Linked DNA regions of Homo sapiens. The protein of the gene in region 4 purifies or fractionates together with the protein of the main gene of each other region. This does not show direct contact. Each region holds a gene or a part of one and is shown on either strand. Other genes may lie near its edges.

What was found.
Region 1: the proteins of LIN28A (region 4) and RBM28 purify together in Homo sapiens (affinity purification with mass spectrometry; 3 studies listed by BioGRID and IntAct, with this or other methods). This does not show direct contact.
Region 2: the proteins of LIN28A (region 4) and NOC4L purify together in Homo sapiens (co-immunoprecipitation; 3 studies listed by BioGRID and IntAct, with this or other methods). This does not show direct contact.
Region 3: the proteins of LIN28A (region 4) and LARP4 purify together in Homo sapiens (affinity purification with mass spectrometry; 3 studies listed by BioGRID and IntAct, with this or other methods). This does not show direct contact.

Annotation. Positions count from the first base shown.
Region 1 is NC_000007.14:128,301,491-128,306,531, reverse strand, and holds part of RBM28 (RNA-binding protein 28), read left to right. Parts: 3' UTR 1-5,041. UniProt on the Homo sapiens protein: Nucleolar component of the spliceosomal ribonucleoprotein complexes.
Region 2 is NC_000012.12:132,146,834-132,151,130, forward strand, and holds part of NOC4L (nucleolar complex protein 4 homolog), read left to right. Parts: intron 1-447; coding exon 448-555; intron 556-799; coding exon 800-949; intron 950-1,046; coding exon 1,047-1,146; intron 1,147-1,238; coding exon 1,239-1,273; intron 1,274-1,758; coding exon of another isoform or gene 1,759-1,775; coding exon 1,776-1,826; intron 1,827-1,950; coding exon 1,951-2,062; intron 2,063-4,147; coding exon 4,148-4,208; intron 4,209-4,297.
Region 3 is NC_000012.12:50,427,762-50,432,802, forward strand, and holds part of LARP4 (la-related protein 4), read left to right. Parts: coding exon 1-148; intron 149-1,155; coding exon of another isoform or gene 1,156-1,173; coding exon 1,174-1,329; intron 1,330-2,733; coding exon 2,734-2,809; intron 2,810-5,041. UniProt on the Homo sapiens protein: RNA binding protein that binds to the poly-A tract of mRNA molecules. Associates with the 40S ribosomal subunit and with polysomes. Plays a role in the regulation of mRNA translation.
Region 4 is NC_000001.11:26,419,712-26,424,752, forward strand, and holds part of LIN28A (protein lin-28 homolog A), read left to right. Parts: intron 1-5,041. UniProt on the Homo sapiens protein: RNA-binding protein that inhibits processing of pre-let-7 miRNAs and regulates translation of mRNAs that control developmental timing, pluripotency and metabolism.

The sequences.
Region 1 (5,041 bases), on a different chromosome or scaffold from region 4:
ACTATTATTTTTTCACTTTTCCACATACCCCACAACACCTAACATTGATTTACTCGTAGTAGGAGTTTCATACTGTTGAACTCTCTAAAGGCCATTTGTTCCAGGGCCTAGCTGGGCTTGTGAAGGACAACAGAGTCATTTCCTAAGGACCCCAAAAGACAGCATGAAGGAAAAAATAATAATAAACTGCTGTTCACAGTGCCTTGAGTGTACCACCGTACTTTCTGCTATGCCTTGTCCATTCCAATCTGGACAGTCTCTGTGCCCCTCCTTTCCACTCAAGTGTTATCCAGCACTCAAGTTCTGGCTCAAGGCCCAACATCTCCGTGGGGACCTCAGCCATCCCAGGGCATTGTGACCCCTTCCTCTAAGTCCCCGGCACACTCGCTGATTGGTACCCTCTCATTCGACAAAGCATATGCCATTGTGGCTTACTTGTCATTTCTTTAGGTCTTGCCTTCCCAAGTAGATCATGAGCCACTATAAGAACTAGCTCCCATAGTCCCAGCCCCTGGGCCTGGTACATGGCAATGCTTAGTGATTGGTGATTGAGGATAATGGTGGTAAAGGATGTACCAGACAGTCATCTCCTGAAGAGATGCCGAACAACCTGTCCTTGTTTTATGTATTTTCTCTTTCTTTCCTGTCCAGTTTTATTCCTCTCATAGTAACTGCTAAAAAAATATCAGTTCCTGTCACTCTTCCACCCCTTTTCTCCCTCTCCCCTGCATTGTGGTCTGGGCCTTGGTCCACTAGCAACTCCCCTTAGGTGTTGCTTAATCTGCCTCATGGCCAAAGCCAATCCCATTCCTGTCCCCCGCTACCCAAGGGACTCCCAGTCTGTATGCACAAGGCGGGATGTGAAGTCTGGATGTGCAAGAAACCCAGCTGTAAGAAACAGCTTCCCTCGGCTTGGCATGGTGGCTCATGCCTATATTCCCAGCACTTTGAGAGGTCAAAGTGGGAGAATCACTTGAGCCCAGGAGTTCAGGACTAGCCTGGGCAACATAGCAAGATCCCACCTCTACAAAAAAAGAAAAAATTCAGAGTCTCAAATGTCCCTTCATCTCCTTACTCTCGACCTGTCTCCCTAGTTCTCTGCCGCCTTTTCCTCTCCCCTGGATCTGACACTCAATTGTCTGCATGCACTTTTCAACTGAAAGAGACTCCAATGCCATCCTTCTGATGAAATTTTTGCTTTGGATACTACTGCAGAAAAAATGCTATCTTGTATTCTGGTCCATGGTGGGGAAGACCCTGTCGTAGAACCTGGCAACTCAAGTGGAGGGAGGGGCCAGAACATTGTTCTTATGCTATTTACAGTGAGACAACAGGATTGATGCAGAACTTTCTTTTTTTTTTTTTTTTTTTGAGACAGAGTTTCATTCTTGTTGCCCAGGGCTGGAGTGCAGTGGCATGATCTCAGCTCACTGCAACCTCCACCCCCCAGGTTCAAGCAGTTCTTCCTCAGCCTCCGGAGTAGCTGGGATTACAGGCGTGCGCCACCACGCCCCACTAATTTTTGTATTTTTGGTAGAGACGGGGTTTCACCAGTGTTGGCCAGGCTGGTCTCGAACTCCTGACCTCAGGTGATCCACCCACCTCGGCCTCCCAAAGTGCTGGGATTACAGGCATGAACCACCGTGCCCGGCCGTGATGCGCAACTTTCTAATAACATACTTTTGAAAGTGCCCAGACATACATCCCTCCTCTGGTACCACAGTGGCCATCAGTTGCCAGAGAACATGAAATTATCCAGCCCTCAGCTCTGCAGCAGGATTCTGAGGAGTAAAGCAGGCCTGTAAAGTACTCTAAAGTACTTCAGAGAGGTAATGCCACAAAGCGAAGAACACCTCTTGGAGGCAGAGCCCCTCAGCCCTATCCAGGCCAGCAGTGTCCACTTGAAATCTGAAAGCAGCCTCCCTCACCAAACCAGCAAGATGGAAAACCTCCCTGGGTTGGCAAGTGGCCCTGGGAAGTACATGCCCCATCTCTGTCAGGATAGCAGTGGAGAGGTTTCGTGCCAGTGCCAGCTCCACCCACCCAGATGGTACTCAAGACTCCAAGCCTGTCAATGGGGTGGAAACTTTCTGGCATTTTCTGTCAGAAGGGTGAGTTAGCACTGAACCATCTCATGTGTCTTTTCACTGAGTAACAGCCCATATCCATTCCATGAAATGAGTGACTGCTTTGTTGAATCAGATAGTAACAAACATTTATTTGTAGTCTGGTTGTGTCATATCATGGTTGAATTGCAAACAGGTTGGATAGAAGAGTCAGCAAAAATCAACAAAAGCATTCTGTAAAAAACTTTTCTAGAATTACAATAAATGGCATTGTATATTTTATTTATAAATTATGTGCTGCACATCATTTTTATCAATGAAATTTATAATAAATTTCTGTACATATATACATTTTTATCCCAGAGAGCCAGTTGTTAAGCATTTACCAGCAATAAATGCTTTTTGTTTCCTGCTTACACAGGTTCTGGGAGTGGCCAGCCCACTCTTTGAGATGTCCCCACTTGCTTTTTTAGTTGTCCAAGTAGTGTTCTGCCCAGCCTTCCCGACTCTCTTTCTTATCCTTCCCTCGAAACTATTCTGTTCCTTATGCTTAAATACTTTCCAGTCATGGGAGCTTTGCTGTAGGCCCTTGGCCTTTCATGGGTAGCTTCTGATACGTGCATGGGTGTTAATAGAGGAAGTTGACCCCGCCTGGGAAGAATAATGACCTATGGAGACCTGGCCCTTTCTCTTATGGCTTCTTAAAGTGACAGCTGTTATGGGAAGTTCAGGCATCTTGACGTGGAAAATACATTGTTCATTTTCTTTTAATTTTTTTTCCCCTAACCACTATACCAACAGGGATGGAAAGATACTTTTAGTTGGAAGGAATTTGGAGCCCTTAAACGACACCTGGAGCAGCTGCCTGTGGGTGGGGCTTTGCACAGTCTCATCCTGGCAAGGGAGGACGAGCCAAGGACCAGTTTTGCAGAATTGTCATCATGAGGCCCTGGTTGTGTGCTGGGCTGGGGCATTGCCCCTTTCCAGGAGGCCAGGCCAAGCAGGGCTGCCTGGCTTAGGCTTTTGCATCTTCAGCATCCTTTCACGTCTCTTATCTCAGGTGACCTTCACAGCAAGCCTGGTGAAGGTTATTGAGAAGCAGATGTCACCACCTAGTCTTAGAGCTGATGAAAGCAGGATGTGGGGAAGTCCAGACCCTCTCCTGAAACCCCTTGGCCACCTGAGCTAGTACCAGAGCAAGGTCCCACTTGGCCGTGAGTGCTGTCTCTAGGGCCTATTTCAGGAACTGTCTCATATATAAGAACAGAACACTTTTTGCCAGCTATACCAAATGTTTTTGGGATTAAAAAAATAGTTTCTCTTTTCCAAATTAGGTGGTAAGAAAAGGAAGGGCATTTTCATTCTCACATTCTTTGAATGTTGAAACGTTTTAAAAACTTCCAGCTGGGCTTGGTGGCTCATACCTGTAACCCCAGCACTATGGGAGGCTGAGATGGGAGGATCCCTTGAGGCCAGGAGTTCAGGACCAGCCTGGGCAACATAGTAAAACTGCCCAAAATTTGAAAATTAGCCTTGTGTGGTGGTGTGCACTGTAGTCCCAGCTGCTCGGGAGGCTGGGGCAGGAGGATTGCTTGAGCCCAGGAGTTTGAGGCTGCAGTGAGCTATGGTTGTACCACTGTACTCCAACCTGGGCAACAGCGTGATACCCTGTCTAAAAAAATAATAAAAATAAAAAAGGATTAAACCCTTTACTTGACCAGCTTCTTTTCCTGCTACCCCTGGACTAACTAATCATTACATATTTTTGTAGTTGTTTTTTCTTTCTTTCTCTCTCCTGATCTACCACAAGCCAAATGTACTCATATACATACTAATAGGTGAAAAAAGAGAGTCTGAGGAGTGAATACATTTATTTTGTGATTTCCTAGGCAGTAGCTAGGACTCCCTTAGAGGTTGCTAATAGGGAAAGGGTGCGCTGGCTCTACTCAGTTTTATAACTGCTTTTCCCCGAATTCTGCAGACATCTTCATTCCCCTGGAGGTCAGATAATGGCTATTTATTTTCCATAGCCATGAAAATCTCTGGGGAGAGCTGTGGCAATTTGACGAGAGCTATTAAAGGGACATTAGGATTGAAGTAGCTGCTCAGGCAGTCACATACCCTCGATCCTCATCTGCAGGGACAGCTGCCAGAACGAATGAGCCCAGCTCTCCTGCCCGCAGCCAGCCGCGTGTGGGTGCAACTGGCGACCAGCCACTGGAGTGAGTCCCAGGGAAGGGGACAGGTTCTTAGAATCACCATTTGTCTCTGCTCTCTCCCTCTCTGCAATAGGACGGGCACTCTAAACTCACATAATGGTTAATAACAACAGCTAACAATTACTGAGCACCTACTATGTGTCAGGCATGTGCTGAGGATGATCGCATCAAGTAAAATGCCTGTCTCTGGCCCAGAGGCCCAGAAGAAGAGAAAGAAGGGAAATCTGTAGGAGGCAAACAGTCCCTTACCCCTCTGCTTGCAGACCTTCAGTGACAGGACACTCCCTGTTTGCTCCAAGCACCTCTTGCATTTTCAGAGCTTGGGACACAGATTCAGGGACTTGCACTTCGATAGAGTGCCTCAGGACCCCTCGTCGGAGCCATGGAAAGTCAGTTTCTGGGCCCATCCTTCCTGTGGGGGTGTCTTTCCTTCTCTTGGCCACCCCCTAGGAATCCCTAGTAGAGAGCAGGCACTTAATAGCCAGTGCAGTGAGAGTGGTCTGTGATGTCTGGGCCAGGGCAAGGCCCGCCAAGTGGGCTCCCAGGTGCCTGCCACAGAGCCTCTGGGGTTTGAGGCCCTCAGTGACCCTTAGGCAATAGCTGGGTCTTAATGAGGGATCATGTCCTTTCCTGGGTAGTCGTGGGTAGAGGGGTGTGAACTGATCTGAGCTACTCTAGGAAGGCTAGAGACAAAAGCAGGAACCAAGAGAAGGGCTGAGGCTCCTTCCAAGAGACTCCAAGTCCTGAGGGCAAGAA
Region 2 (4,297 bases), on a different chromosome or scaffold from region 4:
TGGTGTCATTTGCCTGGGCCCTGAAAGCACTGAGTTTGCCACCCCGAGATGAGAGCTTCCAAGCCTGGGTCTGAGTTGGGCACCATGCTGGCATCACACGCCTGTGTTTTCACAGCTGTTCCCAAGGGTTATGGTGGCATTCCCGTGACACAGGTGACGAGAGAGCAGTCAGGTGGCCCATAAAGCAGACCTGGGCTGTGTACCCTTCCCCCGCCAGACTCTGTCGTGAGCACTGGATCTCTTTAACTAGAGATCTTGTCATCTCTACGTCATGGGTGGGACACGGAAGCCCAGAGTGGCATCTGGTGGCGTGTGGAGCAAGAGAAGGCCCGGCCGCCCTTTTCTCAGCTCTGGGCCTAGATGGGAGGGGCTCCCTGACTGGGCTGAGCTCTGGGCCCATCCGTGGGGTGAGGGCATCACAGCCACCCTGCACTGCCCCCTTCCCAGGAGCTGGCCCTCAGCGCACTCCTGAAGTTCGTGCAGCTGGAAGGAGCGCACCCCCTGGAGAAGTCCAAGTGGGAAGGCAACTACCTGTTCCCCCGAGAGCTCTTCAAGGTGAGGGCCTTGCTGGGGACTCCCAGAGGGCCTGGCTGGCTGGCCAGATCCCAGGATGGCCCCGTAGTGGGGGCGGGGCCTGCTGAGCTGAGCCTGGCTGTTGGCTGGGACACTCCTGTGGCTCCTGTGGCCCACCCAACCAGGAGGAGTCTGCCTGGGGGGCTCGATGGGGCAGGGCTGCCTGCCTGGACCTTGCTGGCGTATGCTGGGCCGGGCAGGGCTGCTCACTGGTCCTTGCCCCTAGTTGGTGGTGGGAGGCCTGCTGTCTCCTGAGGAGGACCAGAGCCTGCTCCTGTCCCAGTTCCGGGAGTACCTGGACTACGACGACACCCGCTACCACACCATGCAGGCAGCCGTGGATGCCGTGGCCCGGGTCACTGGCCAGCACCCCGAGGTGGGTGATGGGGTCCTGTCGCCAGCATCATGCTGTTGCCTCCCAGGGAGGCAGGGACTGGGGGGCGGCGTCCAGGCACTCAGGCCAGGCTCCGCAGGTGCCCCCCGCCTTTTGGAACAATGCCTTCACGCTGCTGTCTGCCGTGAGCCTGCCCCGCCGGGAGCCCACCGTCTCCAGCTTCTATGTGAAGCGGGCGGGTGAGTGTGCTGAGAGTCAGGGGCGGACAGGGCTGAGCCTTGGTCTGCCTCCCCTGCGGGTCAGGTGACCTTTGCCCTCGCTTTCCCTGCAGAGCTGTGGGACACCTGGAAGGTTGCTCACCTGAAGGTGAGTTGCTTCTGGAGAGCCGGGCACCCTCCCGGGTTTGGGGGTGTGTGTGGGGTGCATGTGAGACCCCATGGAGGCTGCCGCCTTCCTCACCAGAGGAAACTCCCAGGGTACAGGTGGCAGCTTGCACGGCCACCAGGTCACTCGAAGTGTGGGAGGTGACGAGACCTGTGAACTCGGGACCCTCCCTTGGGTCAGAGGCCACCGCCGCCTCTTGGAGTCAAGCCTCTGGTGCCACCTGTGGGCCCCGTGGGCTGTTTTGGGCGCAGCCCCCCTCTTGGCCATGGTCTTGCCAAAGCTGCTTTCTTGGCTGTTCTGAGACTCCAGCCTCGAGGGCAAGGCGTACCTGACTTGAATGGGGACAGGAAGAAGGAAGGCAGGGTCAGAAAAGTGGAGAGCAGGCTTGTGTTGGCTCAGGCTGGGCTTCGGGGTGCCCTGGCAGCTGCTCGGGCTCTGGTCTGGGGTGGGGAGGGCGGCGAGTGCAGTCTGGACCCCGTTGCAGGAGCACAGGAGGGTTTTCCAGGCCATGTGGCTCAGCTTCCTCAAGCACAAGGTAGGGGCCAGGCCGGGGAGGGGGCGGGGGCGGCATCCGGGTCTCCCCCAGGGCGGAGGCCTCACCCCGACCCGCCGGCCCCCGCCCACCCGCCCCTCACCCCCACCTGCCGGCCCCCGCCCAGCTGCCCCTCAGCCTCTACAAGAAGGTGCTGCTGATTGTGCATGACGCCATCCTGCCGCAGCTGGCGCAGCCCACGCTCATGATCGACTTCCTCACCCGCGCCTGCGACCTCGGTGAGTGCCGCCGCCTCGCTCACACCACACCCCTAATCCCCTCGGTGAGTGCCGCCGCCTCACTCCTACCACACCCCTAATCCCCTCGGTGAGTGCCGCCGCCTCACTCCTACCACACCCCTAATCCCCTCGGTGAGTGCCGCCGCCTCACTCACACCACACCCCTAATCCCCTCGGTGAGTGCCGCCGCCTCACTCCTACCACACCCCTAATCCCCTCGGTGAGTGCCGCCGCCTCACTCCTACCACACCCCTAATCCCCTCGGTGAGTGCCGCCGCCTCGCTCACACCACACCCCTAATCCCCTCGGTGAGTGCCGCCGCCTCGCTCACACCACACCCCTAATCCCCTCGGTGAGTGCCGCCGCCTCGCTCACACCACACCCCTAATCCCCTCGGTGAGTGCCGCCGCCTCGCTCACACCACACCCCTAATCCCCTCGGTGAGTGCCGCCGCCTCGCTCACACCACACCCCTAATCCCCTCGGTGAGTGCCGCCGCCTCGCTCACACCACACCCCTAATCCCCTCGGTGAGTGCCGCCGCCTCGCTCACACCACACCCCTAATCCCCTCGGTGAGTGCCGCCGCCTCGCTCACACCACACCCCTAATCCCCTCGGTGAGTGCCGCCGCCTCACTCACACCACACCCCTAATCCCCTCGGTGAGTGCCGCCGCCTCACTCACACCACACCCCTAATCCCCTCGGTGAGTGCCGCCGCCTCGCTCACACCACACCCCTAATCCCCTCGGTGAGTGCCGCCGCCTCACTCCTACCACACCCCTAATCCCCTCGGTGAGTGCGGCCGCCTCACTCACACCACACCCCTAATCCCCTCGGTGAGTGCGGCCGCCTCGCTCACACCACACCCCTAATCCCCTCGGTGAGTGCCGCCGCCTCGCTCACACCACACCCCTAATCCCCTCGGTGAGTGCCGCCGCCTCGCTCACACCACACCCCTAATCCCCTCGGTGAGTGCCGCCGCCTCACTCCTACCACACCCCTAATCCCCTCGGTGAGTGCCGCCGCCTCGCTCATACCACACCCCTAATCCCCTCGGTGAGTGCCGCCGCCTCACTCACACCACACCCCTAATCCCCTCGGTGAGTGCCGCCGCCTCGCTCACACCCCTAATCCCCTCGGTGAGTGCCGCCGCCTCGCTCACACCACACCCCTAATCCCCTCGGTGAGTGCCGCCGCCTCGCTCACACCACACCCCTAATCCCCTCGGTGAGTGCCGCCGCCTCGCTCACACCACACCCCTAATCCCCTCGGTGAGTGCCGCCGCCTCGCTCACACCACACCCCTAATCCCCTCGGTGAGTGCCGCCGCCTCGCTCACACCACACCCCTAATCCCCTCGGTGAGTGCCGCCGCCTCGCTCACACCACACCCCTAATCCCCTCGGTGAGTGCCGCCGCCTCGCTCACACCACACCCCTAATCCCCTCGGTGAGTGCCGCCGCCTCGCTCACACCACACCCCTAATCCCCTCGGTGAGTGCCGCCGCCTCGCTCACACCACACCCCTAATCCCCTCGGTGAGTGCCGCCGCCTCGCTCACACCACACCCCTAATCCCCTCGGTGAGTGCCGCCGCCTCGCTCACACCACACCCCTAATCCCCTCGGTGAGTGCCGCCGCCTCGCTCACACCACACCCCTAATCCCCTCGGTGAGTGCCGCCGCCTCGCTCATACCACACCCCTAATCCCCTCGGTGAGTGCCGCCGCCTCGCTCATACCACACCCCTAATCCCCTCGGTGAGTGCCGCCGCCTCGCTCATACCACACCCCTAATCCCCTCGGTGAGTGCCGCCGCCTCGCTCACACCACACCCCTAATCCCCTCGGTGAGTGCCGCCGCCTCGCTCACACCCCCAACCCCCACCCCGCAGCACCTCTTCCCCGATCCCACTGCCTCCACCCCCCACTCCCCTGCCCTGCATGTGGTCTCCAGCTTTGTGTCCGTGGGGGCTGTGGGAGGGGACAGCAGGGGCAGAGGCCACACTCCACAGACTTACACTCAGTGTGGGCAGGGGGTAGGGTGGGAGCGAGGTCACTGCAGCTCCAGCCTGTGTCTGTCTGTCTGCAGGGGGGGCCCTCAGCCTCTTGGCCTTGAACGGGCTGTTCATCTTGATTCACAAACACAACCTGTGAGTGTCACCAGGGGTGCAGGTCTTCTTCCCAGTCTGCCCAGCCCTGCTCCTCTGTCCCCTTCCCACCCTGCCCCACGGGGTCCCCG
Region 3 (5,041 bases), on a different chromosome or scaffold from region 4:
CAGGTAGCATCTAAAGGAACTGGTTTAAATCCTAATGCCAAAGTATGGCAAGAAATTGCTCCTGGAAATACTGATGCCACCCCAGTAACTCATGGAACTGAAAGCTCTTGGCATGAAATAGCAGCTACATCAGGTGCTCATCCTGAGGGTAAGTCTTAAATATTTGGTCATAAAAATCACAGTTTGGTTAAATGTATGGCCAAGCAAGTTTACTGAACTTGAGACACATCTCTTTTTTTTTTTTTTTTTTTTGAGACAGAGTCTTCCTCTGTCACCCAGGCTGGAGTACAGTGGCGCAGTCTTCACTCACTGCAACCTCCACCTCCCGGGTCCAAGCAGTTCTCCTGCCTCAGCCTCCCGGGTGGCTGGGATTACAGGCGCCTGGCTTTATCTCATGCCTGTAATCCCACACCCGGTTACCACACCCGGCTAATTTTTGTATTTTTAGTAGAGATGGGGTTTCACCATATTGGCCAGGCTGGTCTCGAACTCCTGACCTCAAGTGATCCACCAGCCTCGGCCTCCCAAAGTGCTGGGATTACAGGTGTGAACCACCATGCCTGGCCAGGATATATCCTTTGATTATTTGATTAAGTATATTTATCAATTTTTCTTCCTTTAAACATACTGCATCCAGCATTTATAAATGTTTAACATGTAGTTTGTATATAATTCTCATTTATATCTAACATGAATAGATTGCCACTAATTTCAAGTAGTAGCCGTGTTTTTGGGTCCAGCATGCAACCCATCTATAATAATTATATTTATAAATTAGTTTTTATCTACCATCATTGACTCTGCTATTTACTCACTGTTCGACCTTGGGCAAATAACTTAATTTCTCTATGCTTTTTTCCCTCCATCTGTAAAACAGAAGCAATCTTAATTACAGCACAGGATTTTCTGATAATTAAATGAATAAAGTGCATGGAGTAGTCTGATACATGGATAATGCTATATACGTTTTAGCAATTGTTGATCATTTTAGTTTATCTGTAATTGTCAAAACTTATCTCCCTCGGAATGATAACTCTTGCTTAAAACCATGCGGACATATTTCAAACTGGTAGAAATCCTTAAAATCTTTTTATAGGTGACATACTGCCCAGAGTTCCTGAGAATAGAATTTAAATAATTCCCATTTACTTTCAGTGTCTGTCTTTAATACAGGTAATGCAGAGCTCTCAGAAGATATATGTAAAGAATATGAAGTAATGTATTCTTCATCTTGTGAAACCACAAGAAATACTACAGGCATTGAAGAATCAACTGATGGGATGATTTTAGGACCAGAAGATCTGAGTTACCAAATATATGATGTTTCCGGTAAACTTTATGGTTTTATTGTTAAAATGAGAATTCAGTACAGGACACCCCCCACCCATGGTCTCTTTATACTTGTTCTGATAAACCTATGGCATTATTTTCTTATTTGAAAAGAAGGTTACGTTAATGAAATGTTAGTTGATTGTTACATTGTTTTCAGATAACATGACTTTTGTAATGTTAAGATTGTTTATGAGGGTTCTATTAAAGGAAAGCGTGAAATTAAAGATAACAGAAAAAAAGGCGGGGTGGCTCATGCCTGTAATCCCAGCGCTTTAGGAGGCCCAGGCGGGCAGATCACTTGAGGTCAGGAGTTTGAGACTAGCCTGGCCAACATGGTGAAACACTGTCCTATACTGAAAAAAAAAAATTAGCTGGGCATGGTGGCATGCACCTATAATCCCAAGATCATGCCACTGCACTCCAACCTGGGTGACAGAGTGAAACTGTGTCTGAAAAAAAAATTTTGTGTGTCTATATATAAACAACTGCCTACTTTGAACATAGAGTTGAAGTGATATGGTAAGCAATTGGTGTTTTTTTGTTGTTGTTTTTTTGTTGTTGTTGAGAGGGAGTCTCGCTCTGTTGCCCAGGCCGGAGTGCAGTGGCGTGATCTTGGCTCACTGCAATCTCTGCCTCCTGGGTTCAAGTGATACTCCTGTCTCAGCCTCCCGAGTAGCTGGGATTACAGGCACGCGCCACCACACCTGGCTAATTTTTGTATTTTTAGTAAAGATGGTGTTTCACCATGTTGGCCAGGCTGGTCTCAAACTCCTGACCTCAAGTAATCCACCTGCCTTTGGCCTCCCAAAGTGCTGGGATTACAGGCGTGAGCCACCATGCCCGGCCTTTAAGTGCTTTTAGTATTGTGCATTGTTAATTTTTTGATAAAGATAACCTTAAACTAATATGAAATGTATCTGATGAAAGAATATCTAGATTGACAGAAATTAGTTAGACTTTGAACTGTCCAAATTATAAAAATAATAAAAAATACAGTTTGGGCCAGGCACAGTGGCTTATGCCTGTGGCCAAGGTAGGAGGATTGCTTGAGCCCAGGAGTTTGAGAACAGTCTGGGCAACATAATGAGAGCCTGTCTCTACAAAAAAATAAAAATAAAAAGTTAGCTGGGTATCATGGCACAAGTTTGTGGTCCTAGCTACTCAAGAAGCTGTGGTGGGAGGATCATTTGAGCCCAGGAGGTTGAGGCTATACTGAGCTGTGATCACACCACTGTACTCTAGCCTGGGCAACAAAGGGAGACCCTGTTTCTCTGAAACAATAGCTTTGTGGTGAATTTTGATTGTAGATACTTTGTGGCTTCTGAGTACAACAGTATGTCAGATTTATCACCTCTACTAACATGCTATTAACTTTTTTTCCCTCTTCTTTTCTACCATCAGGAGAAAGCAATTCAGCAGTTTCTACAGAAGACCTAAAAGAATGTCTGAAGAAACAATTAGAATTCTGTTTTTCACGGTATTGCTGTTTCCCCTTTATTGAATTTTATTAGTAGATGTAAAATACGTGTGAAATAGAGCGCAAGGATGGTGATTATTATTTAACTAATTTTTTTTTTTATTTTCTTGAGACAGAGTCTCATGTTGTCGCTGGGCTGGAGTGCAGTGGTGTGATCTCGGCTCACAGCAGCCTCCGCCTCCAGGGTTCAAGAGATTCTTGTGCCTCAGCCTCCAGAGTAGCTGGGATTACAGGCGTGCAGCCACCATGCCCAGCTAATATTTGTATTTTTAGTAGAGACAGGGTTTCACCATGTTGGCCAGGCCAGTCTCAAACATGCAACCTCATGTGACCTGCCCTCCTCTGCCTTGCAAAGTGTCGGGATTACAGGCGTATGGCACCACACTCGGCCCCTTGTCTAGATTTAAAAGTGTAGGGTCGGGCGCTGTGGCTCATGCCTGTAATCCCAGCACTTTGGGAGGCTTCGGTGGCTGGATCACCTGAAGCTGGGAGTTCGAGACCTGCCTGACCAACATGGAGAAACCCCGTCTCTACTAAAAATACAAAAATTAGCGGGGCATGGTGGTGCGTGCCTGTAATCCCAGCTACTTGGGAGGCTGAGGCAGGAGAATCACTTGAACCCCGGAGGCGAAGGTTGTGGTGAGCTGAGATCGCACCATTGCGCTCCAGCCTGGGCAACAAGAGCGAAACTCCATCTCAAAAAAGAAAAAGTGTAGTCTCCAGTCTGATATGCAGAGGATCTATTCTTAATATAAAGATAATGAAGTTTGCATTGGATGTTTTTTCTATGAACATACTCAATTTTGGAATTGACAAAAAGTTATTTCTTAATGCATGTTTTAATAGTTGATTCTTGTAATGTTAATCATAGAGTCATTTTTGGCAAAATAGTAAGGAGTTGGACAGATAATTTATATTGCCAATGTCTTCTCTTAAATAAGGAATCCTTTCAGGCAAACATTTGGAGAAGTCTTATTTACAGATAAGAATAATGGGCCAGGCGCAGTGGCTCATGCCTGTAATCCTAGCACTTTGGGAGGGCAAGGTGGGCAGATCATGAGGTCAGGGGTTCAAGAACAGGCTTGCCAACATGGTGAAACCTTGTCTCTAATAAAAAATACAAAAATTAGCCAGGTGTGGTGGTGGGCGCCTGTAATCCCAGCTACTCGGGAGGTGGCAGCAGGAGAATCACTTGAACCGGGGAGGTAGAGATTGCAGTGAGCTGAGGTTATTCCTGGGCTCCAGCCTGGGCGGCAAGAGCGAAATTCCACCTCAAAAACAAGGAAACAAAAACATTCATGTAATATTTACTTTAGCCTGTACTTTGGGAGGCCAAAGTAGGTGGATCACCTGAGGTCAGGAGTTCAAGACCAGCCTGGCCAATATGGCAAAATCCCATCTCTACGAAAATACAAAAATTAGCGGGGTGTGGTAGCGTGGCCCTGTAGTTCCAGCTACTGGAGGCTGAGGCAGGAGAATTGCTTGAACCCAGGATGTGGAGTATGCAGTAAGCCGAGGTTGCAGCACTGCACTCCAGCCTGGGTGAATTTTACCTACTAACTAGATCATTTATGGGTCTGCTTCTATTGTCTGGGTTTCTTCTCTTGAATTATCTGTAATAATTTACTGCCTTTTTGTATGTCTTGTAAATTTTGATTTTATGCTGTACATTACATACAACAGAACCATAGAAGATGTAGGTGATATAACTCTAGACAGAGTTTGAGCTTTTTTTCTGTTAGGCAGAGAGTGATATGTTGATTGCTTCAATCCAATCAGGAACTGAGCTAGGTCAGGGCTGAGCAACAATTTTAAATGGACTCAGTTCACCTTTGATTTAGCTCTATTCCTTCTACATGGCCCTTTCAGGCTTTTGATTTAGAGCTTGGCAGTTTTGTGTCACCCTAATCTTACAAAACCAAGGAGATTTAGATCTCTAATACAGAGGTTTGAGATTTAGCTCTTTAACTTCCTACCCCATACTGCTTGAAAATCTGGCAGTGTCTTGGCCTGGCGCAGTGGCTCACACCTGTAATCCCAGCACTTTGGGAGGCCAAGGCAGGCGGATCACCTGAGGTGAGGAGTTCAGTATTAGCCTGACCAACATGGTGAAACCCCATCTCTACTTAAATACAAAAAATTAGCTGGGCATGGTGGTATGCACTACTAATCCCAGTTACTCGAGAGGCTGAGGCAGGAGAATCGCTTGAACCCAGGAGGTGGAGGTTGCAG
Region 4 (5,041 bases):
TATAGATGATTAAAGAAAGGAGGGAACAGGCCATCAGACTCAATCAACCCTTGTTCTTAACTATTTACCTGCTGAATCACAGCTAGAACTAGGAGTGTCCCAGCCTAAGACAAGCTGGGCAAGCAAATGAAGCTGGAATTGCTTGGGTCCAGAAGGCTCTTGGTCTGGCTCCTCTAGGACCTCCCAACTCACCCACTAATTGCATCTCTTGTCCCACCCCGCTCAATAAAAAATAAGTCAAATCTAATATAATCTTTATTTTTTGAGATGGGTTCTTGCTCTCTCACCCAGGCAGGAGTGCAGTGGCGCGATCTCAGCTCACTGCAAGCTCTGCCTCCCAGATTCAAGCGATCCTTCTACCTCAGCCTCCCAAGTAGCTGGTACCACAGGCACATGCCACCATGCTGAGCTAATTTTTGTATTATTTTGTAGAGAACAGGGTTTCGCCCTGTTGCCCAGGCTGGTCTCCAACTCCTGAGCCTCAAGCTCAGAATCCACCTGCCTCAGTCACCCAAATTGCTGGGATTACAGTTGTGAGCCACCATGCCCGACCTTACAAATCTAACTTTAAACTCAGGGTGGTTACTGTGAAACAGCGAGAGAGGTATTGCACCCGGCCTGCAATATCATCTTAAAACAAAAATTTGGCCGGGCATGGTGTGTAATCCCAGCACTTTAGGAGGCATGAGGTCAGGAGTTTGAGACCAGCCTGGCCAATAAGGTGAAACCCTGTCTCTACTAGAAATACAAAAATTAGCTGGGTGTGGTGGCGTGCGCCTGTAGTCCTAGCTTAAACCCAGAAGAATCGCTTAAACCCAGGAGGCGGAGGTTGCAGTGAGCTGAGATCGTGTCACTGCACTTCAGCATGGGCGACAGAGCAAGACTTTCTCAAAAAAAAAAAAAAAAAATTAAGTGATAAGGAATCTGTGGTTCCTTCATCTTGATGAAGAGCATGTTTCATTTAAGTTCCAGTTTGGAATATTACCCCCCAGCCACCAGCATAAAATACGAATGCTACTTACTCATGTTCCCTTGAGCCAGGACTAGGTAAGTGCACAGTGATCCCTTTTGCTTCTCCATTTTCTATGACGACTACTCCTTGTTGACATATTTGACACTGTTGTTTTACTATAATAGATGAAGCTGTAATGAAGTCTATTCTGGGTAGGGTCTGAGATGCTGTCACCTCCGCTAATGTCAAGTTGGTGGTGCAGTAAGTGGCATGATAGAATGAGCTCTGAGCTTTAAATCAGGAACTCTGGGTTCATCTGACCCTGGCTTTGCTACAGAACTAGCTGTATCAACAACTACTTTTTTTTTTTTTCTTGATGGCTGCTGGCTGTTTGCTAACTGCTTTATAAATATCAGTGTCCTTAAATTTTGGTACAAACGTGCAGTGTTCTAATAGGATTATTCCATACATATTGTTCTAAATCTTGCTTTTTGTTTTTTCTTTTAACAATATTATTTGGTGATCTTTCTCAGCTGAATGATTAAAAATCTGCCTCCTGTTTCATTAATTCATTCAAAAATGTGCTAGGCATTATTTCAGGTACCAAAATGTGGCTGTGAACAAACCAAAGACTTTACGTTGTTCTTAATGGCTGCGTGGTATTCATTATTATAGATGTACCATATTTATTCAACCATTCCCCTTCAAATACACCAGTAGGTTATTTCCAATTTTTTTAAAGCAACAATGAGATACTGAGTATATGTGTCGTGCTAAGACTTCCTACTGATAATCTACTTATATTATGTTGTGTAATTCTTTTTTCTTAGTGATTTATGGTATATTTTTGTAGTTTTACCAGTCTGATTATCTGTCTTAACTTTTCAGTATTTTTCTTAACAATGAGGTGTTTAAATCCTCTGAAATGTATTTTGCATATGTATCATACAAAGTCTGTAGGAATATGACTTCCTTTCCCAATGGATTATTAATTTTTATAGCAGCATTTATTGAATTATTTTTCTTACCTATTGATTTCTCCATATATTCTCAGATCTCTGTGATTTTCCATTTTAATCCTCTGATCCATCTGCTTGGGTTATACTGTCTTTCGGTAACATTATTTTGATATAATTTCAAACTTTAAAAAGGCTGCAAGAACAATACCCAACACTCCCACATAACCTCTACCCAGATTCATTGACTCTTAACATTTTGCCCCATTTGCTTTATCATTCTCTATCTTGCTACAGATAGTTTTTTTTTTGAAACCATAAGTTGGAGACAGTAAGCACTTTTATCTCTAAATATTTCAGTGCGTATTTCCCAAGAATGGGAATATTTATCTTTTTTTTTTTTTTCTGAGACAGGGTCTCACTCTGTCACCCAGCCTGGAGCACAGTTGTGTGATCTCTGCTCACTGCAACCTCTGCCTCCTGGGCTCAAGGGATCCTCCCACCTCAGCCTCCCCAGTAGTTGGGACTACAGGTGTGTACCACTGTGCCTGGCTCATTTTTGTATTATTTTGTAGAGATGGGTTTTTGCCATATTGCCCAAGCTGGTCTCGAATTCCTGGGCTCAAGCAATCCGCCCATCTTGGCCTCCCAAAGTGCTGGGGATTATAGGCATCAGCCACTGTGCCTGGCTGGGAATATCAATCTTACATCGTTTCAGTACACTAATCATAATCAGGAAATTAAACACTGGTACATTTATCTATATACCATATGCAAATTTTGTCAATTGTCCTATTTTTTTTTTTTTTTTCCTGTTTCAAGATCCAATCTGGAATCTTGGATTTCATTGAACTGTTCAGTTCTTCAGGCTTTGTCTTTTTATGACCTTGACATTTTTGAAGTCCTGTTTTATAGGAATGTCCCTCAGTTTGGGTTTGTCTGATGTTCCCTCAAGGTTAGATTCAGGATGTGCATTTTTAAAGTCATAAGTCCTTAGTGCATCATATTAGAAGATATGTGTGTCCCATTGTAGGCAAAGCTAAACTCAAAGAACTTGACTAGGGTATTATCTGCCAGTTTTCTCCACTGTAAACTTGCTGTTTTTCCCTTTGTAGTTGCTACACTGCTGATTATATCCAATTTAAATTGTAATATCTGGTATTCTTGGCAATTTATATTTTCCCATAGCCTTTAGAATCACTCAATCTTCCAATCCAAGATCGTGGTATGTTTTTGCATTTTTTCCTTTAATATATTTGAGTTTTTTCTTCATATAGGCTTTTTACCTTGTTAAATGTATTCTGAGGGTTTTGGTGTTTTTGTTTGTTTCTGAGAGAGGGTCTTACTCTGTCGCCCAGGCTGGAATGCAGTGGCATAATCTTGGCTCACTACAACCTCCGCCTCATGGGCTCAAGTGATGCTCCCACCTCTGCTGGGATTACAGGGGTGAGCCAGACAGAGTCTCGCTCCATCACCCAGGCTGGAGTACAGTGGTGCCATCTCTGCAACCTCTGCCTCCCGGGTTCAAACAATTGCCTCAGCCTCTCGAGTAGCTGAGATTACAGGTCTGCGCACCATACCCAGCTAATTTTTGTGTTTTTTGTAGAAATGGCATTTCGTCACGTAGGCCAGGCTGGTGTTGAACTCCTGGATTCATGTGATCTGCCCACCTCAGCCTCCCCAAAGTGCTGGGATTACAGACAGGCATGAGCCACTGTGCCTGGCCTATTCTGTTTGTTTGGTTTTTTAACATGTTTTGCAGCCATTATTATGATTTCCTTTTTTTTCTTTTTCTTTTTTTTTTTTTTTTTTTTTTTGTTGTTGTTGTTGCCCAGGCTAGAGTAGAATGGCGCAATCTTGGCTCACCGCAACCTCCGCCTCCCGGGTTCAAGTGATTCTCCTACCTCAGCCTCCCAAGTAGCTGGGATTATAGATGCCCACCACCACGCCTGGCTAATTTTGTATTTTTAGTAGTAGAGACAGGGTTTCTCCATGTTGGTCAGGCTGGTCTCAAACTCCTGACCTCAGGTGATATGCCCGCCTCGGCTTCCCAAAGTGCTGGGATTACAGGCATGAGCCATTGCGCACGGCCCATTAGTATTATTTCTTAAATCATTGAGCATCTTGAGTTTGTTTTTTTGTTTGTTGGTTTGTTTGTTTTGCGACGGAGTCTTGCTCTGTCACCCAGGCTGGAGTACAGTGGCGCGATCTCAGCTCACTGCAAGCTCTGCCTCCCAGGTTCATGCCATTCTCCTGCCTCAGCCTCCGGAGTAGCTGGGACTACAGGCACCCGCCACCACGCCTGGCTAATTTTTTGTATTTTTAGTAGAGACGGGGTTTCACCGTGTTAGCCAGGATGGTCTCGATCTCCTGACCTCGTGATCCCCTGCCTTTGCCTCCCAAAGTGCTGGGATTACAGGCGTGAGGCAGCGCACCCGGCCTTTTTTTTTTTCTTTTTTAAATAAGGCATATCATATTGCTTTGATTATAAAAATACCACTTGATTTTGTATTTTTTCCAGTATTCTACTTATTTGGTCTTTTGATGATGGTATAAATACTAAGTGAGGCATTATGTGAAAAATGAATATTTCAGTGCTTCATAGCGTGACATTTTATTTTTATTTTATTTATTTATTTCTTTGAGATGGAGTCTTGCTCTGTCAACCAGGCTAGAGTACAGTGGCATGATGGCTCACTGAAACCTCTGCCTCCGGGGTTCAAGCAACTCTCCTGCCCCAACTGCCCAAGTAGCTGGGATTACAGGCGCCCACCACCACACCCGGCTAATTTTTGTATTTTTAGTAGAGACAGGGTTTCACCATGTTGGCCAGGCTGGTCTCGAACTCTGGACCTCGTGATCCACCTGCTTCAGCCTCCCAAAGTGCTGGGGTTAAAGGCGTAAGCCACCGTGTGTGGCTGAGCCACCATGCCCAGCTATTTTTACTTTTATTTTATTTATTTATTTTTGAGACGAAGTCTTGCTGTGTTGCCCAGGCTGGAGTGCAAAGGCGCCATCTTGGCTCACTGCAACCTCTATAGTGTGACACTTTAAATTTCGTAATTTTATATTTGTTGATTTCTTCCAAATGCTTGTATTTACAAATTTTTCTGTTTGTTGTTGTTTGTTTGTT